Homo sapiens: one gene and its partner. The main gene of each other region encodes a partner of the protein of the gene in region 2 in a complex. Each region holds a gene or a part of one and is shown on either strand. Other genes may lie near its edges. The genes, in order: AXIN1 and DVL2. A codon is read from its position in the direction of its gene.

Evidence for each region.
Region 1: the proteins of DVL2 (region 2) and AXIN1 are in contact, whole or in part, in a crystal structure (PDB 6JCK), measured with the Homo sapiens proteins. Residues at the interface, in NP_004413.1 of Homo sapiens: Lys15 (codon at 7,780), Ile17 (codon at 7,774), Tyr18 (codon at 7,771), Glu23 (codon at 7,756), Glu24 (codon at 7,753), Thr25 (codon at 7,750), Pro26 (codon at 7,747), Tyr27 (codon at 7,744), Leu28 (codon at 7,741), Val29 (codon at 7,738), Val46 (codon at 7,687), Leu47 (codon at 7,684), Gln48 (codon at 7,681), Arg49 (codon at 7,678), Pro50 (codon at 7,675), Phe81, Arg84; in NP_003493.1 of Homo sapiens: Arg821, Tyr823, Lys825, Lys826, Glu830, Phe831, Val835, Val836, Phe837, Glu838, Glu839, Lys857, Glu859, Asp862.

The regions. Positions count from the first base shown.
Region 1 is NC_000016.10:337,429-353,796, reverse strand, and holds the start of AXIN1 (axin-1), read left to right. Parts: upstream 1-1,073; 5' UTR 1,074-1,362; coding exon of another isoform or gene 1,363-1,428; intron 1,429-6,690; coding exon of another isoform or gene 6,691-6,771; coding exon 6,772-7,649; intron 7,650-16,368. UniProt on the Homo sapiens protein: Component of the beta-catenin destruction complex required for regulating CTNNB1 levels through phosphorylation and ubiquitination, and modulating Wnt-signaling.
Region 2 is NC_000017.11:7,226,441-7,238,579, forward strand, and holds the start of DVL2 (segment polarity protein dishevelled homolog DVL-2), read right to left. Parts: upstream 8,078-12,139; 5' UTR 7,823-8,077; coding exon 7,629-7,822; intron 4,755-7,628; exon of another isoform or gene 4,441-4,754; intron 4,358-4,440; coding exon 4,288-4,357; intron 3,991-4,287; coding exon 3,845-3,990; intron 3,716-3,844; coding exon 3,606-3,715; intron 3,504-3,605; coding exon 3,368-3,503; intron 3,239-3,367; coding exon 3,148-3,238; exon of another isoform or gene 3,110-3,147; intron 3,008-3,109; coding exon 2,938-3,007; intron 2,835-2,937; coding exon 2,695-2,834; intron 2,606-2,694; coding exon 2,529-2,605; intron 1,605-2,528; coding exon 1,537-1,604; intron 1,344-1,536; coding exon 1,215-1,343; intron 1,096-1,214; coding exon 964-1,095; intron 830-963; coding exon 650-829; intron 519-649; coding exon of another isoform or gene 490-518; exon of another isoform or gene 447-489; intron 200-446; coding exon 1-199. Other genes in the region: PHF23 (PHD finger protein 23), read right to left, coding at 9,186-9,400, 9,490-10,327, 10,945-11,037, 11,189-11,220.

The DNA of each region.
Region 1 (16,368 bases), on a different chromosome or scaffold from region 2:
TGGAGACAGCCCAGGGGAAGGGGTGCAGGGGTCTGGACACTCCAATGGCCTTGCTCTCGGGCTGGCCTGGGCAGCGGAGGGAAGGAGAACCCTTCTCTGATACTAGATGGTGCCTGGGAGAAATCAAGGCAGAGGGTCCTAGCCGGTGGGCTCTTTGGAGGTTGTGGCTCCTGTCCGGGTGAGAGCCACCATATATTGGGGCCTAACGTGTTCCCTGGCGCTGTGAGTCCAGGCTGCCTTGGGACTCAGGAGGGTGGAGCCCACCCCACCTTCCAAGGGCCCTGGCCATCCCTGCCTGCCGACCACCCCACTCCTGGGAGCCTGCTTCCCTCACGGCGGCGGGCAGGCCGTGGCGGTCCCCACGAGGGCCTCCTCTCCAGGGCCGGCTGGGCAGGGAGCCCCGAGGCCTGCAGCCCCCTGACTGCCCTCCGATGTACTGGCGGCAGAAAAGGGCTGCGCCCCACGTGCGCCCTTCGGGGCGCGCAGTCCGCCCAGTGCTCCCCACGGCCGCGGCCATTCCAAGGACCTGCAACGCCGCCTCTCCCACTCCGCTCTCTGGGAAGCCAAAGCCTCCCGGGCTCCGCTTCCGCACCGCCCCTCGGGAAGACGGCGCGACCGCGCCCCCGGCACGCCCCGCCCCCGGCAGGCACTGACCACGCCCTCTCCCGGCCATGCAGAGACCCCGGCCCATGTTTCTCAACTCGTCTTCTCGCTTCCGGCCCCGCCCCGCGCCGGAGGCCCCGCCCCACGCTCTTTACCTCTTCTGCTCGAGGCGGGCCCCGCCTTACTCCCTGGTCCCCGCCCCACGCCCGAGGCCCCGCCCCGAGCTCTTCACCTCGTCTTCTCGCTTCCGGCCCCGCCCACGCCCCGGCCCCGCCCCGCGCTCCTCACCTGTCCCCTCGCTGTCGGCCCCGCCCCACGCTCCTCACTTTATCCTCGCGCTTTCAGCCCCGCCCCGCGCCTGAAGCCCCGCCCCACACCCTTTACCTCGTCCCCGCGCTGCCGGCCCCGCCCCGTGTTGAGGCCCCGCCCCGCGCTCTCACCTCGTCCCCGCGCCCCGGCCCCGCCCCCGCACTTCCGGACGCCGCCGGCGGGGGCGCTCGGGCCTGGGCTTCGGCGCTCTGGCTCGGGCTCTGGCTCGGGAGGCGATCGTGGCCGCTGCCGCCGCCAGAGCCGGCCGGAGTCGGCCCGGAGCCGCGTCCACGCGGAGCGGGCGGGTGGGAGCTGGCGGCTGGGCCCCTGCGGCGCCCCCGCGGCCTGCCCCGCGTCCGCCTCCGGGCCGCCGAGCCGCAGCCGCCGAGATGGGGGCCGCCCCGGGCCGCGCCCCCGCCGGGTCCCGCCCGCCGCGCTGCCGCTGAGCGCATGGGCCCGGACCGCGCCGCGCCGCTCCGGGAGCCGGGCCCGGGGTCCCGCCACCACCGCGCGCGGGTGAGTAGGGCCGGGCTCCGGGGCGGGCTAGGCCGCGGTAGGCCGGGCGGGCGGGACCCGGAAGCGGCGGGGGGCGCGGGTGGCTGACGCGCGTGGGACCGAGGGGGTGGGCGCGCGGGGAGCTGGGGCCGGGGTGTCCCTGGGCAGCGGGACTGGCGGCGCGGTGGCCGCTTGGAGGTCCGAGGCCTCGGGCGCGTCTCGGGGCACGGAGCAGCTGCAGGGGCCGCGCATCGCGTGCGGGGGCCCGGGAGAGCCGGGCCTGGAGCCCTCCCCGCCGCCCAGAAGTCGGCGGGAGTCCGGCTGTCCCGGAGGAGGACACTCCCGCCCGCCCTCGCCGAGGCCGCGTGCCGGGTCCGGGTCGGGGTTCGGCCTGAGTAGCCGCGTGCTCCGGCGTCCGTACCCTCCAGGTTGATGCCTTGCTGCCCAAACACTGGTCTTTCTCTTGGGTGTGGTTCTTAGATTCTACCCCCGCCCCGCACTTTGGAATTTAGCCCCCGTGAAACCAGAGCTGCACTGCCCGAGCAGTGAAACTTTCAGCTTGGCATTGAAGAAAGTAGAGAAAAACATGTCAGTTCTCTGGGGATTTTTCTCAGCCCATCTATAAGATATATATATATATATTTTTTGTAGAGATGGGGTGTCACTATATTGCCCAGCAGGTGTTGAATTCTTGGCCTCAAGCGATCCACCTGCCTCAGCCTTCCAAGGTGTTGGGACTACAGGGGTGACCACCGTCCTCTAAGATAATTTTTTTTTTTTGAGACGGAGTCTCGCACTGTAGCCCAGGCTGGAGTGCAGTGGCGCTATCTTGGCTCACTGCAACCTCCGCCTCCCGGGTTCAAGCAGTTTTCCTGCCTCAGCCGCCTGAGTAGCTGGGATAACAGGCATGCGCCACCACATCCGGCTAATTTTTGTATTTTTAGTAGAGACAGGGTTTCACCATGTTGACCAGGCTGGCCTGGAACTCCTGACCTCAGGTGATCTGCCCACTTTGGCCTACCAAAGTGTTGGGATTACAGGCGTGAGCCACCGCGCCTGGCCCCTTCTAAGATAATTTATAAAGGGTTCTTATGTGCATGTCAGCCCCTTGTTTTTGCTCACACTTCTGTTCTCTGCTTCTTCAGGAAGAATCTCGAGCTTACTTGGATCCACAGGCCCTATTTTGGAGAAAACACAGTCTAAACCGGCTACCCGAGATACTCAGCAATAGCTCGGTTTCAGTTTTTTTTTTTTTTTGAGACAGAGTTTTGCTCTTGTTGCCCAGGCTGGAGTCCAATGGCGTGATCTCCGCTCACCGCATCCTCCGCCTCCCAGGTTCAAGCGATTCTCCTGCCTCAGCCTTCCCAAGTAGCTGGGATTATAGGCATGCGCCACCAAGCCTGACTAATTTTGTATTTTTAGTAGAGATGGGGTTTCTGTATGTGGGTCAGGATGGTCTTGAACTCCCGACCTCAGGTGATCCGCCCACCTCGGCCTCCCAAAGTGCTGGGATTACAGGCGTGAGCCACCTCACCTGGCTTTGGTTTCAGTTTTAAGATCTCCATTCAGGGACAAGGATGGGAAAGCATGAAAAACAGACTGTTTTTGTTTGATTTTCAGCTGGTGTTGACTTGTCTTGGGTTTCTAGTTTCAGAAAAGCTAAGCAGACTTTTTCGGATTACATTGGTCATTGAGAATTTCAGTGATGGGGGAATAAATTACATGTGAAATAGTAGCCCTGAACCTTCAAGAGTTAAATCAATGGACAGCTGGGAAGATGTCAGAGTCGTGTTGTGTTACTTGCCTCCTCCATGTAAATCAAAATGTCAAAAGTTACGTTTGGGTAAAATAAATACCTACACACGTAGGTAGCATTGAGTTTGCTGCCATGATGCCTGGAGCATATGCCTAAGCGGTGACGAAAGGGAATTTTAAATACAGTATCATACTTGTAGGCATCCCGCCCGTTTTATGGACTCACTTTATTGATGGTAGCTACAGGCTGTGGGCCAGATTCAGTGCTTGCAGGCATTTGATACTGAACTGAGTAAACGTGACTGCTTTATGTGTGGTGTGTACTTGTGTGTACACTAAATGCTTGGTGTGCTTCCCTGTGGGAACCCAGAGATTTCAGGAATTGGGACATGTTTCAACAACATCAGTAGCTTGTAGAGGGGTTCATGTGCTTCCAGGGACACCAAAAAGTCTTCTGTCAGTTGACAGCCAAAAATACACATGATTGTAAGAAAATTTTCTTCTGGGCTCTGAAAATTTGGTTCACACATGAATTAAAACATTAGTTTTGGGGCCAGGCAAAGTGGCCTGTAATCCCAACACTTTGGGAGGCCGAGGCGGGTGGATTGCTTTGAGCTCAGGAGTTTGAGACCAGCCTGGCCAACGTGGTGAAACCCAAAATACAGTAATTAGCCGGGCGTTGATGACTCGTGCCTGTAGTCCCCGCCACTTGAGAGGCTGAGGCTGGAGAATTGCTTGAGCCTGGGAAGCTGAGGCTGCAGTGAGCTGAGATCGCCCCACTGCAGTCCAGCCTAGGCGACAGAGCGAGACCCTGTCTCAAAATAACAAAAAACAAAACAACAAAACCCATTAGTTTTGGAAGAATTTGCTGCTGTTTTCTGTGGTACAGTAGTTCAGCCCCTGTAGAGAGCCAGTGTTTGGCGTCTGTGACAAATGTCTTTTCTTTTTTACATCAGTGAATGACTTACTGGTGCCCGTTAGTTGCAGGACCTTGTGCTGGGTGCTGTGGGTCCCGCTACTACCAATAATTAACACAGAAGACTTAAGTCCCTTATGAGAGCATGATGGTGACTTGTGGTTAGCCTCCCTTCTGAGCACTGTCTGATTAATCACTTTCCACTCTCCGGTGACTTGGTTCTTCAAGCTAGTGAATGGTAGTACATCTATAGTGGTAAGGCTCAGGTGGTCAGGGTGCAGGCCTTCTTTCCTGTGATGGCGTCCCAGACAGATGACCGTGAGCTAGTGTGGAGGTGCCCACGCCCAGGGTGCTCCCTCCATGCTGATGTGGCTCACGGAGTGACTGCCGCTGAAGTGGTCTGTGAGCAGCAGGATGTCACAGCTCACTGGGCCTTGACCTTTAGAAGCTGTGTGTTCCTGCTGAGGCCAAGATGACATACTACCCAGCAGCGTTCACAAAAAGTCCTTAGCTGCTGAAATGTCATTGGGGGCACATAGTTGCAAACCATCCTCCATCTATGGGTGCTTCTTATTTATTTACTAATTTTATTTTATTTTATTTTATTTTATTTTTTTGAGACAGAGTCTCACTCTGTCGCCCAAGCTGGAGTGCAGTGGCCGGCGCGGTGTCGGCTCACTGCAAGCTCTGCCTCCCGGGTTCATGCCATTCTCCCACGTCAGTCTCCCGAGTAGCTGGGACTGCAGGTGCCCACCACCATGCCTGGCTAATTTTTTGTATTTTTAGTAGAGATGGGGTTTCACCGTGTTAGCCAGGATGGTCTCGATCTCTTGACCTCGTGATCCGCCCGCCTTGGCTTCCCAAAGTGCTGGGATTACAGGTGTGAGCCACTGTGCCCGGCCTATTTTTTTTTTAGAGACAGGATCTTGCTCTGTTGCCCAGGCTGGAGTGCAGTGGGGTGCGATTATAGCTCACTGCAGCCTTGAACTCCTGGGTCAAGTGATCCTCTTGCCTCAGTCTTCCAAGTAGCTGAGACTACAGGCATACGCTACCATACCCGGCTAATTAAGAACTGTTTTTTGGTAGAGATTGGGTCTCACTATGTTGCCCAGGTTAGTCTTGAACTCTTGGGCTCAAGGGATCCTCCAGCCTCAGCCTCCTGAGTAGCTGGGACTACAGGTGCGTGACACCACGCCTGGCTCTGTGGATCCTTCGTGCTTCCAGCCGTGAGCAGCTGTTGGCTGGTAAAGTGTGTGCAATGTGAGGAAGTTGGTGTGGGGGACAGATTCCACATAGACAAGGGACAGCAGTGTGGAGTGGTGGCTGGGGGATAGATCCCCCTTCAGTTGGTCCTGGGTTTTAGGGTTTTATTTGTTTGCTGTGACTTGTTCAGCACTCTAGGCTTTTGAACCCAACATGCTTCTCTAAAGCCCTCTCTCCAGCCCCTTTTAGCCAGGACCACTTACATCATGGCAGGCTGTTGTTTCAGTCACCTGCATGGCCGGGTTGACAGGCATAGCCAGAGCTCCTGGGCTCCTGTAGGACGTGGCAGGAAGGACCATAGACCATGGCAGGGGTTCTGTTGGAGCCCTTATCTACTCTCTTTTGCACACCCCTTGCAGGCTTGTAGCAGCAGCAGCAGTAGTAGCAGCAAATTCTATAGTTCCCTGATGTCTAAGAGGGTGGGTGGTTTGGTTTTCAGCTTAAGGAGTGAAGTCACATGAACTATAGCTTCCTTAGCTAAAAATTGTATTTGCATTTCCTTTTATTCTGTACCTTCTCTGTTCCTTGAAGTACCCATTTACTATTTGCTATCTGAATCCTCATCAGAGAGGCTTTTCAGAGTCAAGTGCAGCATTCTGACAGAGCATTTTAAGATTGTCTCCAGTGACGGTGTCCGAGCGCCTCTGTGGGCCTGGGTGGTGTCCTTGATCCCTCGGTCGATGGGGCTGAAGGTGACCCATGATTATCTCTCTTTGAGGCGTGTGTTGAGAGTCGGAGGAACACCCTGCAGTGTGTTCTCATGTGTCGGAAGGTGTACCACGCGTGACGTGATGCAGCAGGTAGAAAACAGTGGCCGTGGGCCTGGAGGACGTGGGGTTCAGAAGACGCCCACCACCTTCGGGGCTGTAGCGCACCTTCCTTTCTCTCTGAGTGTTGCTGGGGCTGGTGGAGCGATTGTCTCCATCTTACTTGTGAGGGTCCAGCCCTCACTCAGGTTTGTACACATAGTCAGGACTAGAGGCAGCTTTCCTTCCTCCGGTCTTCCTGCCTTCCCTGTCCCTCAGCTCTGCAGCTGAGGTGGGAGGTGCTCAAGCTGCCAGCCTCCGTGATGTTTGTGCAGTGAGACTTGTGGGGAGTGGCATTCCCATGTCCTGGGCATCCCTTCTTAGCATGAGAGGCATTCCTGTAGTTGTAAAAGTTTCCAGAAATTGCTTTAAAGTAGAACTATGCTTGTGGCCAAAATATATCTTGATTGAACATTTAAACTGAGTTTCTTGCTTTGAGTTTGAGCGGGAGGGCGTCATCGTGAGTCTTGTCTTGAGAAAACCTCTGGTCGTGTTTCATGGACCCACCTTTCCTAATCCTTGTCCTCTTAATGGTTTCAACAGGACAGATTGATTCACTTTGGAGCTGTAAGTACTGATGTATTAGGGTGCAGCGCTCATTGTTCCTTGACGCAGAGTCCCAAAATGAATATCCAAGAGCAGGGTTTCCCCTTGGACCTCGGAGCAAGTTTCACCGAAGATGCTCCCCGACCCCCAGTGCCTGGTGAGGAGGGAGAACTGGTGTCCACAGACCCGAGGCCCGCCAGCTACAGTTTCTGCTCCGGGAAAGGTGTTGGCATTAAAGGTGAGACTTCGACGGCCACTCCGAGGCGCTCGGATCTGGACCTGGGGTATGAGCCTGAGGGCAGTGCCTCCCCCACCCCACCATACTTGAAGTGGGCTGAGTCACTGCATTCCCTGCTGGATGACCAAGATGGGATAAGCCTGTTCAGGACTTTCCTGAAGCAGGAGGGCTGTGCCGACTTGCTGGACTTCTGGTTTGCCTGCACTGGCTTCAGGAAGCTGGAGCCCTGTGACTCGAACGAGGAGAAGAGGCTGAAGCTGGCGAGAGCCATCTACCGAAAGTACATTCTTGATAACAATGGCATCGTGTCCCGGCAGACCAAGCCAGCCACCAAGAGCTTCATAAAGGGCTGCATCATGAAGCAGCTGATCGATCCTGCCATGTTTGACCAGGCCCAGACCGAAATCCAGGCCACTATGGAGGAAAACACCTATCCCTCCTTCCTTAAGTCTGATATTTATTTGGAATATACGAGGACAGGCTCGGAGAGCCCCAAAGTCTGTAGTGACCAGAGCTCTGGGTCAGGGACAGGGAAGGGCATATCTGGATACCTGCCGACCTTAAATGAAGATGAGGAATGGAAGTGTGACCAGGACATGGATGAGGACGATGGCAGAGACGCTGCTCCCCCCGGAAGACTCCCTCAGAAGCTGCTCCTGGAGACAGCTGCCCCGAGGGTCTCCTCCAGTAGACGGTACAGCGAAGGCAGAGAGTTCAGGTGAGTCCGACGCCAGGCGTCCACTTTCTGTACTCACCTCCGAGAGCTGGAGAACAAGCCAGGGAAAGGTGCTGATGAGGCGGGCGTTAACCCACACCGGATGTCCTGCTGCCGCTGGGGTTGAATTTTGGTTCTGTTCTTATTTGTGATACTTTTGCATTTGTCATTACTTTTTTATATTTGTAATGTTGAGAACACTTTTACTGAGAACAGACTAAAATATATGACTTTATGAGTCATTAGGAACATCGGAATTCTTAGAAGTCACAATGACATGTAAACTTTACCCTTCAGCAGTAAAGTCTGTCACCTCTTAAATAGGAGCTGGATCTACCCAGTAGACATGGTCCTTTCCGCTTAATAAAGGGAGGAGTGGACGTTTCAGGGCATCGATAAGAATTGGAGAATTGGATTCTTGCTTTTTTTTTTTTTTGAGACGGAGTTTCACTTTTGTTGCTCAGGCTGGAGTGCAATGGTACAATCTCAGCTCACTGCAACCTTCGCCTCCCGGGTTTGAGCGATTCTCCTGCCTCAGCCTCCTGAGTAGCTGGGATTACAGGCATGTGCCACCACGCCCGGCTAATTTTGCATTATTAGTAGAGGTGGGGTTTCTCCATGTTGGCCAGGCTGGTCTCGAACTCCCGACCTCAGGTGATCTGCCTGCCTCGGCCTCCCAAAGTGTTGGGATTACAGGCGTGAGCCGCCGCATCCGGCCAGATTATTGCTTTTATAATGATCTTCTAAGCTTCTTCCTACAGGCTGAGAAATAGCAGGGGGGACGTTTTACGTGTGGGGAATGGTCAGAGTACTTTGAAAACTTCCTGTGGCTATAGTGGGCATTCCAGGATTGGGCCTTTTTTCCTGCCAACAAAATCTGTTGGTGCTGTTGTGTAGTCCACAGCAGCCTGGACCCTGAGGCGATCCTGGCAGGGCCTGTGGGGTGCGTGTGTTGCCTGGGAGGGAGCAGAGTGGTGCTCAGCCTTGGAACCTGTTTCTTCGTTCTTCCTTCCCTGTGATCCCTGCGTGGTTCCTGGAGGTTTATTTGGCTTTCGGGCTGGCATCTACTGTGCTTGTGAGCAGAGCGCATGCATTTCCCACTCTTTCCCTAGAGCTGGTGACCGGAGGCTCCGGCCTGTGTAACTTTGAAAGCCTGGAATTCATGTGACCCCTGCTGACCTAATCAAGACTCCGAAAGCACAGCCCCATGTGCTGGGACTCTCCTGAGGAGTTATTAAAAACTCGCATTAGTTCTTCAAGCTTACTGTGACACAGAAATTGGCTACTCGCTCATCAACACAGGATTAAACATGTCTAAGGTTAAACTTGTAGTCTAAGTGATACGATTTAAGATGGACTGTCGACTGGGCGCAGTGACTCACACCTGTAATCCCAGCACTTTGGGAGGCCGAGGCGGGCGAATCACCTGAGGTCGGGAGTTCGAGACCATCCTGGCCAACGTGGTGAATCCTCATTTCTACTAAAAATACAAAAATTAGATAGGCGAGTTGGCGCATGCCTGTAATCCCAGCTCCTCGGGAGGCTGAAGCAGGAGAATCGCTTGAACCTGGGAGGCAGAGGTTGCAGTGAGCCTTGGTTGTGCCATTGCACTCCAGCCTGGGCGACAAGAGGACAAGAGTGAAACTCTGTCTCAGAAAAAAAACAAAAAAAAAACAAAAAAGGATTGTGTAGGTTAATTGGTTAATTTTTTTTTTTTTTTTGAGATGGAGTCTTGCTCTATCGCCCAGGCTGGAGTGCGGTGGCGCCATCTCGGCTCACTGCAAGCTCCGCCTCCCAGGTTCACGCCGTTCTCCTGCCCCAGCCTCCCAAGTAGCTGGGACTACAGGCGCCCGCCACCATGCCGGCCAATTTTTTGTATTTTTAGTAGAGACTGGGTTTCACCATGTTAGCCAGGATGGTCTCGATCTCCTGACCTCGTGATCGCCTGCCTCAGTCTCCCAAAGTGCGGGGATTACAGACGTGGGCCACCACGCCCGGCCTTTTTTCCCTTTTGTTCATTGTCTTTAGCCAAGTGGTATTTATTTAGCAAGCATTTTAGGACACAATATGCCGCAAAGTTATCCTGTTGAGTAAGCCTGGTATAAACTGAGAGTTTCTTTCTTTCTTTCTTTTTTTTTTTTTTGAAATGGAGTCTCGCTCTGTCACACAGGCTGGAGTGCAGTAGCACTATCTCGCTATCTCGGCTCACTGCAACTTCTGCCTCCTGGGTTTAAGTGATTCTCCTGCCTCCCGAGTAGCTGGGATTACAGGTGTGTGCTACCATGCCTGGCTAATTTTTGTATTTGTGGTAGAGACAGCGTTTCGCCACGTTGGCCAGGATGGTCTCGAGCTCCTGGACTCCAGTGATCTCAGCCTCCCAAAGTGCTGGGATTACGGGTGGGAGCCACTGCACCTGGCTGGTTATTTTTTTTGCTTGTTTTTTTGTTTGAGATGGAGTCTCGCTCTGTCGCCCAGGCTGGAGTGCAGTAGTGCAATCTCAGCTCACTGCAACCTCTGCCTCCTGGGTTCAAGTGAGTCTCCTGCCTCAGCCTCCCGAGTAGCTGGGATTACAAGTGTGAGCTACCATGCCCAGCTAATTTTCTGTATTTTTAGTAGAGATGGGGTTTTACCACGTTGGCCAGTCTGGTCTCGAACTCCTTTCCTCAAGAGATCTGCCCGCCTCAGCCTCCCAAAGTGCTGGGATTCCAGGTGTGAGCCACTGCGCCCGGCCCCGGCTGGTTATTTTTAAGATGGGACTGAAGTTGAGGGCTGGGCTGCAGGAGGAAAATGAGCTCCGTTCTGATTTCCACTGTTGGAACCCCAGTGCCTCCCTCCCAGCCACTCTTCAGTTCTTGGCTGCGAGCAGTAGCTTTGCTGTCTGTCCTTGGTTTGCTGTATTTGTAATAAGGAACCTTTGCTATGAAATTAGTGGGATACATTGGCTTCTCCTGTCTAATTTTGTGTAGCTCTGTCTACACAGTTTGGGTCCTAACTTGACTGCTCTGGGGCTGCTGGTGGCAGAGGACCCTGGGGCTTGGGAGTCGTGTCTGCGGTTGAATCCTCTCTGTGGGAGGTGGCCTGTGGTGCAGCCTTGTGGCTTGAAGATCTCTGATGTTGGAATGGTTGCTTGTCAGCACAGACAGGGCATGAAGTCCAGGCTGCGTTCCTCACATTTAGACCATTCTCTTTGTCCTGCCAGGTGTAGGTGAGGGTGCACTAGGTTGGAAGTCGTGGAAACCCACCCACCTGAGCCCAACCCTGAAGGGCACTGTTGAGGCAGAGCCTCAGGTGTGCCTTAGGGCCTGGCACCTTTGCTTTGTGCCATTCTGACTTTGCCTGCCTGGTGGGCGACTTCGTGGGCTTTGTGTTGGAGGTGGCTGCTGCAGTGACCTTGGGCTCTGGGCTCCCTTGTTTACAGATGCTTCCCGCAGCTCTGACGGATGGGCCCGCTGTTGCTCTGAGGAGGGCACGTGTGCCGCTGTGTCCCGTCTGTCTCAGCACAGTCACGGTGCGTGCGCTGGGGGCTGTGCAGCAGGGTCACTCCTGAAGGAAAGTGGGTTCTCCACCCAGACAGACGGCTGCTCCCCAGTGGGGAGCTGGGGGCAGTCCTCCAAAGGAAGGCTGCGGGTAATGCAAAGGGAAAAGGAGAGTGGGTACTGAACAGGCGGCTGGTGAGCATTGCTACCACAGCAGGGCCTGGAGCTTAGGCCTCACGTGTTAGGGGATGCATATCCTGTGGAGAGCCGGTTAGTCGTCCCGGTGTGTCCGGAATTGGTGGGTTCTTGGTCTCACTGACTTCAAGAATGAAGCCGCGGACCCTTGCCGTGAGTGTTACAGTTCCTAAAGGCGGCCTGTCCGGAGTTTGTTCCTTCTGACGTTCGGAGGTGTTCGGAGTTTCTTCCTTCTGGTGGGTTCGTGGTCTCACTGGCTTCAGGAGTGAAGCTGCAGATCTTCGCGGTGAGTGTTACAGCTCATAAAGGCAGTGTGGACCCAAAGAGTGAGCAGCAGCAAGACTTACTGGAAAGAGAGAAAGAACAAAGCTTCCACACTATGGAAGGGGACCCGAGCGAGTTACCACTGCTGGCTCCCGCAGCCAGCTTTTATTCTCTTATCTGGCCCCACCCACATCCTGCTGATTGGTAGAGTCCAGTGGTCTGTTTTGACAGGGCGCTGATTGGTGCGTTTACAATCCCTGAGCTAGACACAAAGCTTCTCCACATCCTCACCAGATTAGCTAGATACAGAGTGTCCACACAAAGGTTCTCCAAGTCCCCACCAGAGTAGCTAGATACAGAGTGTCGATTGGTGCATTCACAAACCCTGAGCTAGACACAGAGTGCTGATTGGTGTGTTTACAAACCTTGTGCTAGATACAGAGTGCCGATTGGTGTATTTACAGTCCCTGAGCTAGACATAAAGGTTCTCCACGTCCCCACCAGAATCAGGAGCCCAGCTGGCTTCACCCAGTGGATCCCGCACCGGGGTTGCAGGTGGAGCTGCCTGCCAGTCCCGTGCCGTGCGCCCGCACTCCTCAGCCCTTGGGTGGTCAATGGGACCGGGCGCTCGTCGGGGAGACTCGGTCCGCACAGGAGCCCACGGAGGGGGTGGGGGGCTTAGGCATGGCGGGCTGCAGCTCCCGAGCCCTGCCCTGCAGGAAGGCAGTTAAGACCCAGCGAGAAATTGAGCGCAGCTCCGGTGGGCCGGCACTGCCGGGGGACCCAGCACACCCTCCGCAGCCGCTGGCCCGGGTGCTAAGCCCCTCATTGCCCGCGGCCGGCAGGGCTGGCCGGCTGCTCTGAGTGCCGGGCCCACCAAGCCCACGCCCACCCGGGACTCCAGCTGGCCTGCAAGCGCATGCAGCCGCGGTTCCCGCTCGCGCCTCTCCCTCCACACCTCCCCGCAAGCTGAGGGAGCCGGCTCCGGCCTTGGCCAGCCCAGAAAGGGGCTCCCACAGTGCAGTGGTGGGCTGAAGGGCTCCTCAAGTGCCACCAAAGTGAGAGCCCAGGCAGAGGAGGCGCTGAGAGCGAGCGAGGGCTGTGAGGACTGCCAGCACGCTGTCACCTCTCACCGGGGTGGAATTTGCGTGGAGGAACGTGCCAGGAGGGCCAGCCCTCGGGTGCTGACCCCTCTGTCCTGGAGGCTACTTTGCCTGCATCTCTGCCACAGTCGCTCATCCCCTGCGGTGGGGCTGCTGCGGTCCAGCACGGCCACAGGCATCCAGTTCCCCTGTGGGACGCCTGAGTGCGGGTCCTTGTTGGTCCGTGTGTGAGCCGCGTGGTGGTTTCACATACTTGATTTGAGGAAAGTGAAGTGTTCTGCTTAGGTCTTTGTCTCAGCCTAGGAAAGAGCTCCATTCCTGGCCCTTTTCTGTGTTTGTCCCACTCACCCACTGTCATTTTGAGCTCCTGGGCCAAGGTTTCATGGGGTTCCTCCCTGGCTCCCCCGCTCTGCCTCTGTGGGAACACTTTCTGCACCCTCGGGTCTTTGTTCCCATTGTCAGTGGAACTTTGAACAGAGCTGGCTGGTTCACCTCGTCATTTCAGCGGTGTGGATCAGCAGGCAGGTTCTGCTGTTGACTGAGTGTTGGGCGGGAGGCCCAGGGCCTGCACTCCCTGGCTGGCGGGCTCAGGCTCTGCTTCCCTTCAGGGTGGCTTGGCCCACCAGGTGGCCTTCAGGGCTGGCCTTGCATGCCCCTGCCAGGTCCGCTTGGTCAAGCCCGCAGTCTCCTCGCCGCTGGCCCCTTCTGTTGACTGCCCTGACCTTCCTTGATGACTGGGGACAGGGTCTTCCTGGATATTTTCGTGTGTCTTCCCGGGCCAGTCCAGTGATGCACTTGTGGATAGGGCTGGTCAATGTGGCTGTGGCCAGAGAGTGGACAACAGACATGTCCACAGCAGGAGCAACATGGTGGCTTGTCTTGGGCTGCTGGTTCCTGGAGCTGCTCAGAGGACCGGTGGGTCCTTTCGAGGTGGGCAGCCAGCCCTTGCCGTTCAGGTTCCCGCAGGGGTGCGTGAGGAACCGTCGGACCTGCTCATTAGTTTATTGACTGTGTTTCTGGTAATGGCCTAAAAGGTTAAGAGAAGAAATGGTTAAAAAAAAAAAGAAGAAGAAGAAGAAGAAAAAGAAAGGGCCCAAAATGTGTACAGAGTTGTCTGTGGAGGAGTGGTTTTGGGTTTCCATGTCCGTTGGACCTCAGGCGGTGGTGCTGTTGAAGGTGCCCGGCTGCAGAGGGGCTGTGTTGCAAGGGTGAACTCTGCTTCCTGTGCAAAGGGTGTGGCCCAGGGTGGGGTCGCCCCCAGGCTTGTCTTGTTAAGGGGACCTCTGCTGTGGTGCAGAGGGGGCAGAGGTGCTTGTGAGCCATACTGCCCCTTGCGTGGGCTCCCCTTGCCTGGGTGTGGGGGGTTTCTAGTCTCCTTTGGGGTATTTGCTTCCCCTGTTTGAGCAGATCTGAAGAGAATTTTTTTTTTTTTTTAGACAGTCTTGCTCTGTCACACAGGTTGGAGTGCAGTGGCACCATCTCGGCTTACTGCAGCCTCCGCCTCCCAGGTTGAAGCAGTTCTCCTGCCCCAACCTCCCCAGTAGCTGGGATTATAGGCACCTGCCGCCATGCCTGGCTAATTTTTTTTTTTTTTTTTTTTTTGAGATGGAGTCTCGCTCTATCGCCAAGGCTGGAGTGCAGTGGCACAATCTTGGCTCACTGCAAGCTCCACCTCCTGGGTTCAAGCACTTCTCCTGCCTCAGCCTCCTCAGCAGCTGGGACTACAGGCGCGTGTCACCACGCCCGGCTAATTTTTTTTTTTTTTGTATTTTTAGTAGAGACGGGGTTTCACCTTGTTAGCCAGGATGGTCTCGATCTCCTGACCTTGTGATCCGCCTACCTCAGCCTCCCAAAGTGCTGGGATTACAGGTGTGAGCCACCACGCCCGGCCTTTTTTTTTTTTTTTTTTTTTTTTTGAGACCAGGCTGGCTGGTTTTGAACTCCTGACCTCAAGTGATCTGCCCGTCTCGGCCTCCCAAAGTGCAGGGGTTGCAGGTGTGAACCACCACACCCTGCCCAAAGGGAAATTTTTTTTGTTTGTGGATGTCCAAGGAAAACTTTAAAAATGATTCCTGGCCAGGCACGGTGGCTCATGCCTGTAATCCCAGACTCTGCTGGACTCTGCTGGTGCTCTGCTGGACTCTGTCCCCACAGCACCAGCTTGCATCCCACTTTTTTTTTTTTTCCCCAAGATGGAGTTTCGCTCTTGTCACCCAGGCTGGAGTGCAATGGCGCGATCTCAGCTCACTGCAACCTCTGCCTCTCAGGTTCAAGTGATTCTCTAGTCTCAGCCTCCCGAGTAGCTGGGATTACAGGTGCATGCCCCCACTCCTGGCTACTTTATGTATTTTTAGTAGAGACAAGGTTTCGCCATGTTGGCCAGGCTGGTCTCGAAATCTTGACCTTAAGTGGTCCGCCCACCTTGGCCTCCCAAAGTGCTGGAATTATAGGCGTGAGCCACTGTGCCCAGTCCATCTTGTATTTTTATGCACCTGTCAGTGGGCAAGGACTCCAAACATATTTTTTCTCTTCCTTAGCCACGTAAAGCTCCATAGTCTCAGACAGGTTTCAGCAGAGTCCACGAAAGTATCTGTAGTTGCCTGTCAGGCCAAAGGATTCTGGAACCGAGAGGCCCCTTTGCCTGGGCGGACCTCAGTCCTGAGCTGTGTGGGTGGGTTGTGAAAGGGAAGCACTTTGCAGACAGCCAGTGGCAGACGTGCCGATGAGACTGTGTGCCTGGCCCTGGTGCTGGTGCTGACCTGCAGCAGCTGTTTCTGGAGGGCTTGGGGTAAGTGTCCCTGCGGGCCCCTGTGGCCCTTCTTGGAACTGTGCCCTAGCCGTGACTGGCCGCCTGGCACCCCAGCCCATTCTCACATTTTGCGCCAGTGTCACAGATTTGAATTGACGCACACGCTCCGGTTCTGCTCATCCTTGTCAAACGCAGACGTCATTTGTAGCAGCGTACCCTGCAGTTATCGGAGGTGGGGGCCAGGCTGGGCTATGGTGGCTGTCAGGGAGAGAGGGCCGCCTGTTGGCTCTTTCTTGGGCCCCTCCGCTGCCTACTTGTGCGTGTGGAGGGAAGCAGCTTCACCTCAGTTTTTCCCCGTGTCACATCTGTGAGAATAACCACTCAGGGTTCTCTCAGAACCCATTAGCTCCAGAAGGTGTTCGGTCTCTCCACTCCCTGAGAGATGGAGACTGGTCACAGGGCTCTGTGAAAACACACACAGCTCTGCCATACTGCTGTGGCGTCCAGGGGGCCCCCAGAGGCCGCACGCCCGGCTGAGTGCCCATAGGGCCCAGATTCCATGCCCCTTCTCCTCCAGCAAGGACCCTGGGCCCTGTCCGGAGTTGAACGCTGGCTTGTGTGGATTGCAGCCTCGGCCCACGGGCTTCCTTTGTGATCCGTTGAAGCATCTGCTGGCAAATGGGCTCAGCTCTTGGCTCAGCTGGCTAGGTGGCCAGGTGGCCGGGTAGCTGGGCGTCCGGGTGTCCTGGCAGGCGCTGTCCTCACTGTGAGCTGCAGTGGGCTGCTTGGTCCTGTGCCCTGCTCATGGCACTCACCCTCCTGCCTCCTTTGAGGTTGCTCCAGTGCTTTTTTTTTTTTTTTTTTTTGGTTTTGACCCACTCTGGATCTTTACTAGCTCACCTGTAGTCTATGGGATTGGTGTCTGCTCCTAAACA
Region 2 (12,139 bases):
GCACTGCCCCCACCATAGGTGTAAGATGAAAGCTCATGGTAGGGTGGAGGCTGCGGGCTGTAGGGGTGTGGGGCAGGGTATTGGTAGGAGAAAGTGGGCAGCAGGGGCCAGGGGGTGGCCCCAGGCAGAGGAGCCAGGGTATCCTGGTCTGAAGCCCCACTGGAGCCATCGTTGTCATTGAGAGACAGGTTGACTAGGTCTGGAAAGCAAGGGAAGAGAGGAAGAAATCACTGCTTCAAGAGGCTAGGGCCCCAAGACACCGAATGGAGAGGAACTGGGAACAGTTCTCCCAGACCCACCCACGATGGGGCTCAAAACAGGGGTTCACAAGGGTCTCTGACAAGAAACTCCCATCTACTTCTGCCATGAGGGCAGGGGCACAGCCACTAGCCCACGTCTTTGCGGGACTCAGGTAAGAGGTGCACCTTCCCCCGGTGGACACAGTCCTGCACCTGGCACATGGCTTGTCCAGCAGCACATGGGTGGACGTCAGCCCCCATCCTCGGCCAGTGCAGGACCTAGTGCGGGACACACACTGCTCGACCATCCATGGTGGCCCTGGCTGCGGTTTCTGGGCTAGGTCTAGGGTTGGAGAGGCAGAACAAGGTAGGCAAAGCCACACTCCCAGAGTTGGGGCAGGGGGACTTACAGCTCTCACAGCCACCACTGAGGTCTCCGAAGACGTAATAGCACTGCTCAGAGAAGGTGATCTTGTTGACGGTGTGTCGGATCAGGCCTGCTTTGAGCAGCCCGCTGGCATACTTGCGGGCCTCCCGCCGCTCAGGAAAGCCCTCCACGTGATGGTAGAGCCAGTCAACCACATCCGAGCCTGGGAGCACCCACAGTGGAAAAAGGCCTCAGGTTCTTCTTCCAACTCCTGCTCTCGCCTCTGCCTGTGCCATTCCTGGCTTTGGTCACCACCTCCTCCCCTTCTCCAGCCACCTGCCCAGGACCCAGCCATACCCAGAAAGGCATTAGGGATGGTGATCTTGAGCCACATGCGGTCCCGGACTTCCAGTCCAGACTCTGGAGCTGCCATGGCCTTGGTCACCGATGCCATGTCCGTATGGACGGAGAGACCCCGGCCTTCACAGCCTGGCAGAGGAGACAACGGGTAACCAGAGTCAGGGATCGCTCCCACAAGGGCAATGGATCAGACCACTGCGGGACAGCCTTCTGCTGGGAGGGTGGGATGAGGTGGGCTGGCGGCTCACCATCAGGCAAAGACGATCCAGATGTAATGGTGCTCATGGAGGAGGAACCTGGATAGGCTGGGAAGGTGCCAGTCAGAGCCGCGGAATGGGACACCCAGGCAGCAGGGTCAATTGGCTGGATGGGCTCATCTGGGACAAAGATGGCACCAAAATGACCCATTCTCAGTCCCCAAAAGCCAGCCCAGTCCCTCCCTGACTCAGCCTCCTGTTCCACCTCTGCCTGGACCCTCCTCCCACCCATTCCCCATGACCACAGGCCCGGCCCCAGCCTCCTGGGCAGCCCCCACCCCCAACTTCAGGCCCCTCCCTGAGTGTCACTCACTTCGGGGGAGAGTGAAATAGGCCTGAGGAGAGGGATCCCAGCACTTGGCCACAGTCAGCACAATGGGGCTATGGGGAAGAGAAGTCCAGTCAAGGGCGCAGGGGAAGAGGAGGCCTCAGGAGGGCGGGGGTCTGAAGCAAGGATGGATTAAGAGACACAAAGAGGGGGAGAAGCAAGCACATCGCGGCTGGGCTAGAGAAGGTGAGGGTGGAAGGCACCACAATGTGGATGACTCATCAACATGGAAAACTCTTAAAAACATACTGCCAAGTGAGACAAGAGAGTACACGCTGTACAGTTCCATTCACAGAAAGTCCAAAAACAGGTAAAACGAAACTGCAGTGTTCAAGGATACGTGCAAGGGTGGTAACTATCCAGTGAGGCAAAGCTTTTCTTTGTTATGGTGATGGCCAAAGAAGTCAGGAGAGTGACTACCCCTGGGGCAGTGAGGCATTTGGGAGCAGGAAGGGACATCTGAGGAGGAAGTTCTAGGGTATCAGCAATCTCCTATTTGATGATCTAGATGGCAGTGACATGGATATTTACTCTAGTATTATTTGCTATGTCATGCATTTGTTTCATGTACTTTGAACGTTATGTCTTAGCACTTTTTTTTTTTTTTGAGACGGAGTCTTGCTCTGTCGCCCAGGCTGGAGTGCAGTGGCGTGATCTCGTTTCACTGCAACCTCCACCCCCCAGGGTTCAAGTGATTCTCCTGTCTCAGCCACCTCACTAGCTGGGACTACAGGCATGTGCCACCATGCCCACTTAATTTTTCTATTTTTAGTAGAGACACGGTTTCACCACATTGGTCAGGCTGGTCTCGAACTCCTCACCTCAGGTGATCCACCCATCTGGGCCTCCCAAAGTGCTGGGTTTACAGGCTCGAGCCACCACGCCCGGCTGTCTTAGTACTTATTAAAATTCCAAAACAAAACATGAAAGAGAAAAAAAAAGAGGACTGAGGACCGGCAACCTGCTTGGCAACTCACCCAGGCTTGTGCACAATGTCCCTCAGCACCCGCACAGCGTCATCGTTGCTCATGTTCTCAAAGTTCATGTCATTCACCTGGAAGCGACGGCAAGTGGGTCAGAGACACGGTGGGAGAGGCTGAGGGCCCCCGTGCAGGGCAGCTCAGTGGCCCTACCCCAGCACACCTGCAAAAGCATGTCCCCTGGCTCAATGCGCCCGTCGGCCGCCACAGCCCCACCCTTCATGATGGAGCCAATGTAGATGCCTCCGTCTCCCCGCTCATTGCTCTGGCCAACAATGGAGATACCCAGGAAGTTGTACTTCTCTGTGGAGAGAGGCCATGTGAAAAGAGGAGCCCCTGCCACAGGACGCCCGGAACCCTAGAGACCAGGCCCTCCCCACGCCCTAGCCACAGGCTCTCCCCATACCCATGTTTAGCGTGACTGTGATGATATTGAGAGACATTGTGGAATCTGTGACGCTGCTGAAGGATGACGTCTGTGGTGGGAAAAGGAGCCAGAGTGCCCTTCAATAACCCAGGGTCAACCCTGGGGTGCTGCCGGTGTCCTGGCACCGCCCAAACCAAAGCCCATGCCCCACCTTCTCCCAGCACCAGCCTTCCTGTAGGAACCCCTCACCCTCTCCAGGCGGGGTGGCCTCTGCTTCCTTCGCCGCCGGTGGCGCTTAAGGAGGCGGGAGGCACTGCTCTGCTCCGTGGAGCTGCTGAACCTACCAGGAGGTTGGGAAGGAGAGCAAACGTAGGCCAAAGTGGTCATGGGGCCAAGAGAAAGAACAAGAGGATTGACTGGAAGACGAGACGGGGCTGGGTGCGCTGGGGAGAGCTGTGCGGAGCCACACCTGCTCATGGTGTCCTCCTCGTCCGAGTCCCCCAGGCTGGTACTCTCCAGCTCGCTGGTCATGAGGGTAGAGGAGCTCTCGTATCCGGCCAGGTGGCGCTCCAGCCTTGAGGGGCCACCAGTCCTGTGGCCCCCAGCTACATATGGACAGGAAGCTCAAGAACCAAGCTTCCCCCTGCTCACCCCACCAAGGCTGGGGTCTGGCCCAGCCCTTCCCGGCCCCCAGGCCTGCCCCTCACCGCCATGCTCACTGCTGTCTCTCCTGCGAGGCCGCTCCCGCCTCAGTGACACTACTGACTCGGTTTCTGTCTCAGGCTCCAGATTCTCATGGCTGCTGGACACATTAGGGCTGGACAGGCAGAGATGGTTTCCAACCCACATCAGGAGAACAGGGCTCCGGATCCTAGGCGTCCCCTACCAAAGGCCTGGGTTCCCTCCTCACCTCCCTCCCCTGCAGTCAAGAATCTGAAGGACTCACTGGAAGGATGGAGGCCTTGAGTCCCCAATGCCGCTGGTCCTCTCGGGTGGCAAAGGAGGTAAAGGTGGGGCTGGAGGCGCCAGTTCTGCCCGAGGCTCATGGACTGGAGGGGCCATCTCGGGTTGGGGATTATCTGAGGACACCAGCTAGAAGGGTGCAAATGATAAACAGTGGCTCACTTGGGAGTCAGGGTGTGACAGGTGGCAGTAAGTGAAAGAATGAGAAAGGGTCTCAGAGAGCTGGAGAAGAGCAAAAAAACCTAGCAAGTATTAGAGACTCCAGAAGGAGAAGGCTGAGGGCCTCTCGCCGGCTCTCCAAACAGACAGGAGGTAAAGAGCCAGGGCTGCTAACGCGCGGCCTGGGGAGGATACAGAAACAGACTGAGGCTTGAGGGAGCTTGGCAATGCTGAGGGGGCCTGGTCCTCGGTGTCAGAACCTCTTACCCAGGATACCACCCTTCCGTTGAAGCAGGGGAGGCGGGCGTTGTCATCTGAAATTTCTTCCTTCACCACCCTGCCAAGCGACAAGGTAGAGGTCAGTGAGCTGGACCAACCATCCCCACCCCGACCCCCATCAAACTTTCTCCCAATCTTCACCTGGCTCCAGGATGTTGACTTTCTCCTGCCCTGTTCAGGTCTTCTCTTACATTGAAAGAACTCACTCCGACACCTAAGAAATCTCCAAACTCAATCCCCTTTCCTTATTTCTCCTCTCCCTAACGCACCCTCAGGGGCACAGTGCTGCTCCAAAGACTTCCTTGAGTCTGACTCAAACCTCTTAGTCCAGTTTCAAAAGCAATCCCGCACGCTGATGCGGCTGCCTGAGATACCTATCTAATGAGACTGGCTGGTGGCCTCCTCTCAACCCCACCCCTGTTCCTTACAAACCTTCCAAAAAGGTCAGGCACGGTGGCTCACACCTGTAATCCCAGCACTTTGGGAGGCTGAGGCGGGCGGATCACCTGAGGTCAGGAGTTCAAGACCAGCCTGGCCAGCATGGTGAAACCCCATCTCTACTAAAATACAAAAATTAGCCGGGCATGATGGTGGGTGTCTATAATCCCAGCTACTCAGGAGGCTGAGATGGGAGAGTCGCTTGAACCCGGGAGACAGTGGTTGCAGTAAGTCGAGATCGCGCCACTGCATTCCAGCCTGGGCGGCTCAAAAAAAAAAAAAAAAAAAACCTTCCAAAAAAGGCTTTGGTCCTCATCAAAGCCTCTACTCTTATACTTTCCTTTAGTTTTCTCTAATTCATTTCTAGAAGACTGTCCTTTCTTGAGTAAAAACACCCATTAGAGGCCAGGCGTAGTGACTCACACCTGTAATCCCAGCACTTTGAGAGGCCAAAGTGGGCAGATTACCTGAGGTCAGGAGTTCAAGACCAGCCTGGCCAACATGGTGAAACCCTTTCTCTACTAAAAATATAAAAATTAGCCAGGCATGGTGGTGCACACCTATAATCCCAGCTACTCCGGAGGCCAAAGCAGGAGAATCGCTTGAACCCAGTAGGCGAAGGTTGCAGTGAGCTGAGATTGCGCCGCTGCACTCCAGCCTGGGCAGAGTGAGACTCCACCTCAGAAAAAAAAAAAAAAAAAAAAACCACCCATTGGATCAAACAAACAATGGAAGTTCCTCATTAGACTGAAAGCTCCCAAGGAGAGGGCAAGCTGGGGTTCCCATTCCCCTGTGCCTCACTGGGCACAAAATTCTGCACAAAGCAATCTGCTCAACCTGACAGATCCCAAAGCCCAGCCTTGGGGTCATCTCTCCAATGGGTTCCCTGTGGTGGACCGGACTTGCCCCTTCTTCTTGACCATGACATCAAACCATGAACACTTACTCTGGTCAACACCATGTCCTAGCCACACACCACACACTGACACTTAAGCATTAACAAATACTGTCGACTAAATGAATAAACGTATAAAGCATCAGACTCTCTACCCTAGTTGTTCCTCTCTCTCTTTCCACACACAACCTTAGCCCCAAATTAGGACACCTTGTCTAATTAACCCGTTAGCCTAATATGGTCATGGGAGCCAGGATATATATCAACATAATCCATTTGCTGTCAACGTGACAACACAGCCCAGTCACTACTAACCCGTCTCAGCATAATGTAGGATTCTTCCCAACATAACACAATCTCAGCACAGCTTGGTCCACTCTGAGGCAAATTATTCTGTATCACCATAACCTACTTTACAGAGTGGTCAGCCTCAATGCTAATTACAATTACCATTCACCAAGAATTTCCCGTGTGCCACACACGTGAACTAACCATTTCATTCTGTGATTTTCTCCATGTCACAGATGAGATCAAGACACAAAATTTAAATAAATTGTCCAAGATTACATTGCTGACAACTAGAAAAACCTTGCCTTAAAGCCAAGATAACTCCCAAGATAGTATCAGCATCCCCATGTCAAACAATCTTTCTAGCTAGAGTCCAGTTTGTTCAGTTCTTCTAAAACCCATGCTATCCCAACTTAATCCAGCCTGCCTTCAAAAAAGCAGAGGTTGGGCCGGGCGCGGTGGCTCACGCCTGTAATCCCAGCACTTTGGGAGGCTGAGGCGGGCGAATCACGAGGTCAGAAGTCAGAGACCAGTCTGGCTAAAACGGTGAAACCCCGTCTCTACTAAAAAATACAAAAAATTAGCCGGGTGTGGTGGCGGACGCCTGTAGTCCCAGCTACTTGGGAGGCTGAGGCAGGAGAATGGCGTGGACCCGGGAGGCAGAGCTTGCAGTGAGCTGAGAATGCGCCACTGCACTCCAGCCTGGGCGACAGAGCGAGACTGTCTCAAAAAAAAAAAAAAAAAAAAGCAGAGGTTGAGGACCCAGAAGGCTCAGCCCCAAAGACCATAAACACAAAAGGGCTTTCTCTGCATTATTTACACGCCAATCTAGTCCAAGATAGCCCTGAATGTCCCAAATTACCCTAGGATAGCCCAATCTATTCTAGCACAGCCTACAATGCCCCCACACGCAGCTGTCTGCACCAGTCTAGATTGGAACATCCCAATACGGCTGCCTGTGCTAGCACAGGCCCCAACAGCCTTGTCTGCCCCTATACCGAGTGCTCCAATAAAACCAAGTCTTGCCCCAAGAGAAACCAGGATTAACCAATACAACCCAGTAGAGTCCATAATGGCCCAAGTGTTTTTTGTTTTTTTTCTGAGACGGAGTCTCGCACTGTCGCCCAGGCTGGAGTGCAGTGGCGCGATCTCGGCTCACTGCAACCTCCGCCTCCCAGGTTCAAGAGATTCTCCCTGCTTCAGCCACCCAAGTAGCTGGGACTACAGGCGCGTGCCCCCACGCCCGGCTAATTTTTTGTATTTTTAGTTAGTAGAGATGGGGTTTCACCGTGTTAGCCAGGATGGCCTCGATCTCCTGACCTCGTGATCCGCCCGCCTCAGCCTCCCAAAGTGCTGGGATTACAGGCGTTACAGGACTCCTGAGAACGTACTAAACAACCAGACAATGGATCAATTTACTCAGTACAGACTAGAATACTCCAACATAAACCAGTATGCCCCCACCTATTCCAGTAAAGCCTAATCTTGTCTAATCTGGTTTAGGATATCCTAGTCTGTCCGTGTGCCTCAATCTATCCAAGCATAACCTTGTCCATCCTGGGATAGTCAACCTACCTCAGCATAGTACAATCTGCTCCACCATAGGCCAGAAAATCCCAGTGTGGCCCAAAGTAGACGTGTGCCCCTCCATGTCGCCCAATCCACTCTAGCAAAGCCCCCGCCGGTCCTATCTAGGCCTTGCGCTCACCCGAAATCCTGATCCATAGACTTGAAAAAGTACTTGGCGCCCGCGGGCCGCTGCAGGACGCTCTTGAAATCGCCGAGGGTGATGCGCTCGGCGGGGACAGGGATCTTCACCAGGTAGGGAGTCTCTTCCTCATCCAGGTGGTAAATCACCTTCGTCTCCCCAACCCCACCGCCCCCAGTGCTGCTACCCGCCATGGTCTCGCCCGCGCGCTCCCGGGCTCCACCGCCCACCCAAAGGGCTAATGGCCCCTGCCGCGCCTGCGCACACCCGCAAACCGACGCGCGAGCGCGGACAGGACTGACCCAGTACGGGAGAGAAGCAAAGGGGAAAAAGCACGGATCTGCGAGGGTGGCGGCGGGGGGCGGGCCGCGGGGTGCGACTCAAAGCCCCGGTCTCAGCGGCCGCCGCGCGCCACCGCCACCGACGCCGCGAGCTTCCTCCAGGTACCCGCCCACCTCTCCTCATGTCACGTGACTTAAAGGCAGCCACCCCGCGCTCCTCAGCCGCCCTCCGTCACGTGATCCCCTCCCAATCACGTGACCGTCTGACTCCGCCTAGTGCCCCCGCCACATGATCGCTGCCTTCAGCAACGGTCTCCCAGCCCCCAAACGTGTACCCCAGCCGAGGTCCTCTGAGCACCCAGGCTAAGCTGGCCTGTGCCTTCAGGAAACGGACCATCGGCTCCCACCCCGCTTTACCCCACCCACGATGGAGCACGAAGCAACTCTGACCCGCAGGAGTGTGCGTGCAGGGAGTGAAGGTGGGGACTGTGGGGGTTCCTAGACTCGAGTGGGGAGGGCCAAATACAATGAAAGCTCTAAGGTGGCTTACTTGTCTTGGGGTGGGAAAGGCCCAGTGCTGTGATATCTTCAGATTGGACTTTGAGACGTGGGTTTCAGCCCCACCTCCAGCTAGTCTTCAGCCACCAAAGCCTCCCTCCCGAGCAGGACAGTGAGGGCTATAAACACAAAAGAGCCCACTCTGCTTTATTTACAACACGCAGGCTGTCTGTACAAACAGCGGCCGATATTATTAAAAACAAAAGAGGTGAGTGAGAATCGTCACCTTTCTGCTTTCCTTCCTCACTTGGCCAGGCTCTAGTACTCCACCTTTGAGCTGCCATGCCCAATAGGGGAAGTCCAAAATTAAAAATACAACCGGTGTAGAAGAAAATAAATGGGGAGTGAAATAGAAGAAAAGATGAGGGAGGGGAGTGCTAATATTTACACTAGAGTTTTATAGACAACTGTCCCATTCCATCCCAATTCCAATCCTGACCCAGAAAGTGATGGTGGCAGGTCCAAGAGACAGAGATTATGTGTCGGGACACAGACAGCCTCCCATCCCCAACCGTAATGGATTCAATTTCAAGTCCACAGAGTGGGGAGGAAGGATAGGGTGGGAAAGTGAGACACTCATTTTCAAACAAGTCTCCCTTGAGAATTCCTGCCTTGAAGTGCAGACAGTATCCAAGCTCCAGGGGATAGGCTGAGGACCCTGAGGCTCAGTTCCCAAATCATGTTGTCATTTGGAAGTTCCAGGCTAAAGTTGGTGCCATCAGGGCTCTCCAGATTTGGGAGGCCCCCCTAACCGCCGGGCCTCTGGCCTCAGTTCCTTGCATTTCTGGCAATAAAAGAAGTCGGGGACGTTGGTCTTCTTAATCTTAGCACAGGAGAGGTGGATCCACGTCCCACACAGGCTGCACTCAATCATGGGCCGCCCTGCAAAGGGCTTTCGACAGTAACATGTGATCAGATCCCATGAGTCATCACCTGGGGAAAAAAAGGTTTGTTTGGTATTCTGCCTGAGCTGTTGGATCCACAACACCCTCAAACCCCTCGCCCCAGCCCGAACCTCTCACCTGATTCTACCATGATGTCCTCGTCCATGACCCGCATCTCGCCTTCACTGGAGCTGGCATCTCCATCTTGGCTTGTTTCAGTGCTGCCCACCTCCTTGCTTTCACTGTCAGCAGGAGGGACTCCTTCAGGGTGCACTGTGGCAGGGGGCCTAGGAGCCTCAGGGGGTGTTGGCAGCACAGGGACTGGGGCTTCACCCCCTACCACTGTTGCCATCTCTTCTTCTTCTTCCTCTTCCTCCTCTTCCTCCTCCTCTTCAGAGTCTGTATCACTGGGGGGTGCCTGGGGAGGCCCAGGAGGTGGGAGTCTATCCCCCCGTTCTGCCTTTTTTAACTTCCGCTTCTTGCTCTTCTTGATTCGAGATCTCTTTTCCCCATCCCCAGGAGTTGGCCGAGGCCTCCGAAGCACCCCAAAGCCAGCCCCAGCTCCTGGCCCCAACTTTCGGTTCTTTCGGTCCTTCTTTCGAGGAGGATGGGAGAGGTCCCCCTGGGAAAGGGGCACGGGGGTAAGAGCAGCAGGGGGCCGGGAGGTATGTGTCAGGGATGTGGGGGACAAAGGAGATGCCACTTTGGGCCCATCCAGATCAAAGAGAGAGTCCTTGAGCTTCATCTTCTCAAGCAAGGTAGCACTGTCGGGGGCCTGCAGACGAGAGAAAGTGGACCTTGGGGGTCCTGGCTGGGTGGGACCTGCTTGAGCTGCCCTTCTCTTGGATGACTTTGCTTTCTTAACAAAAGTCTGGATGGTTCGAAGATCTGAGGGGGCCGAGTCCCAGCCATCACTGTCGGCCGCACTCTCTCCTCGCAATGGAGAGCTGGAGCCAGAGGCTGGCCAGTCACTTTCCTTAAAAGGGGGAAGAGACCAGGGTCAGCAGAACCCCAGTGTCATCTCAGCCCCTCCACAAACCCAGCTTGAAAAGGAGTGACTGGATTTACCCCAAAATGTCCTACCTCAACCACTAAATCCCACTGTACTCCAAAAACTTCTCCCCACCCCAATTCCCATCAGCATGTCCTCTTGACCAGTCCGTGTTACCTCTACCCTCAAGTCTGACACCTCACCGCTGCCCCTGCCCAGGGCCTGTGGAACACTGTATCACCCAGACCGGAGCCGTTATGTCCTTAGCTCTTTTTCTGTATAGCCTCATTTGTTACCATTTTCATCTCCCTAAAATTTATCCATAAACACCTTCCATTCACAGCACCTCAAGACTATGCCAAAATCTCAACCAGCGACTCCAAATCCCCCTTCCTTTTCACTGCTGTTCAAGCTAGCTATCCCGGCCATCCACTCCCCGCATACCAGCTTTCCTACCACAGCCCTAAGAGTCTCCAACTTCCCTGGTCTTACATATAATTTCTAAGGGCCTCCTTCTATAAAGCAATACAGTTCTGTTTGAACAACAGTCACTCTATAGTCCCACCACACCAGCCTCAAGTCAGTAATTCTCTTGCCCCTACCTCTTTGCTAGGGGGAATGTAACCAGCATATGCCAAAACAAAACTGCAGAATTTGTTGAAATCCTCAATTGTTCTCCGCCGTTTCTCTGGTGGCTGAAAGGAAGGAGATATGGATCACATGCAAAGCCACACAGTTTAAGAATGGCATTCCCAGAAACACAGTCCCTAAGTGAGGTCTAGAAAAGGGGGGCGGGGGGCGTTGTCAGGCAGGGCTACTAGGCTGCAAAGGTAAGGCAAACCTCACCTGAGTCTCTGGCTTAAGGGTCGGAGGTGGATCTGGAAAAGCAATAAAAGCTGAGTCAAGACACTAGGAACAATCTGTGTAAAACTCCCCCTCTAAACCCCGTTGTTCCTAAGTGAACCCCCTGCTCTCCCAGGTCCCTCTGCCAGGCCAGCAGGCCCCCAGCTGTGTTGGATCCGCCCCGGCTCCCCCTTCCGCCCCGCGAGGGGCGGAGCCTGGGCGCGGCGCCCTCTGAGGCCTCGCTATAGCGCTCCCCTTCCCCCAACCGGAGGCCCGGCGCCCCGCCCCCCCAACTCACGGTCTCTCTCGACTCCAGTCTACTCGGATCCCTCAGCGCCCCACCCCACCGTACCGCTCCCGGGGCCGCGTCCGGGCCGCCGCCAGCCGCCCCCGTCCTTCACACGCGCCCGGAGCCCCGAGTTCCTACCCGGCCGCGCTCCACCGCCTCGGGCCCTCCGAGACCGCACACGCCGCCCGCCAGCCCCCAGGGTCCAGGATGACCACGCCGAACCGCTCCCCGCCCTCCGGCCCCTTCTACTCGAGCACGCGGCCCGGCGCGCCCCTCACCCCCACCCCAGACACACACAGGCACACGCATCCAACGCTACTTCACGGCCGGGACAGACCCGGGAGCTCTAACCCGGACGCGGCCCCCACCTGCCCCCCCCCCCCCGCCCATACCGCGCTCCCCACAATTTCGCCGTCCCTCCGCCCCCATCCGGGGCTTTGGCCCCTCCCCGTCTCCAGCTTTTCGGGCTCCCCACCGGGCCCCCCGGCCCTGTTCCTAGCCCTCTCCGGCCGCCGCCCCCCCCTCCGCCCCCGTACTCACCACCCAGTTACTAGGCTATGGACCCCTCAACTCTGGCCCCTTCCCCCCAACCAGCCACTCTCTCTCTCTCTCCACAGCAGCCACCGCTGCTGCCGCCGATGCCCCCCTCACCCTCAGCAACTCCC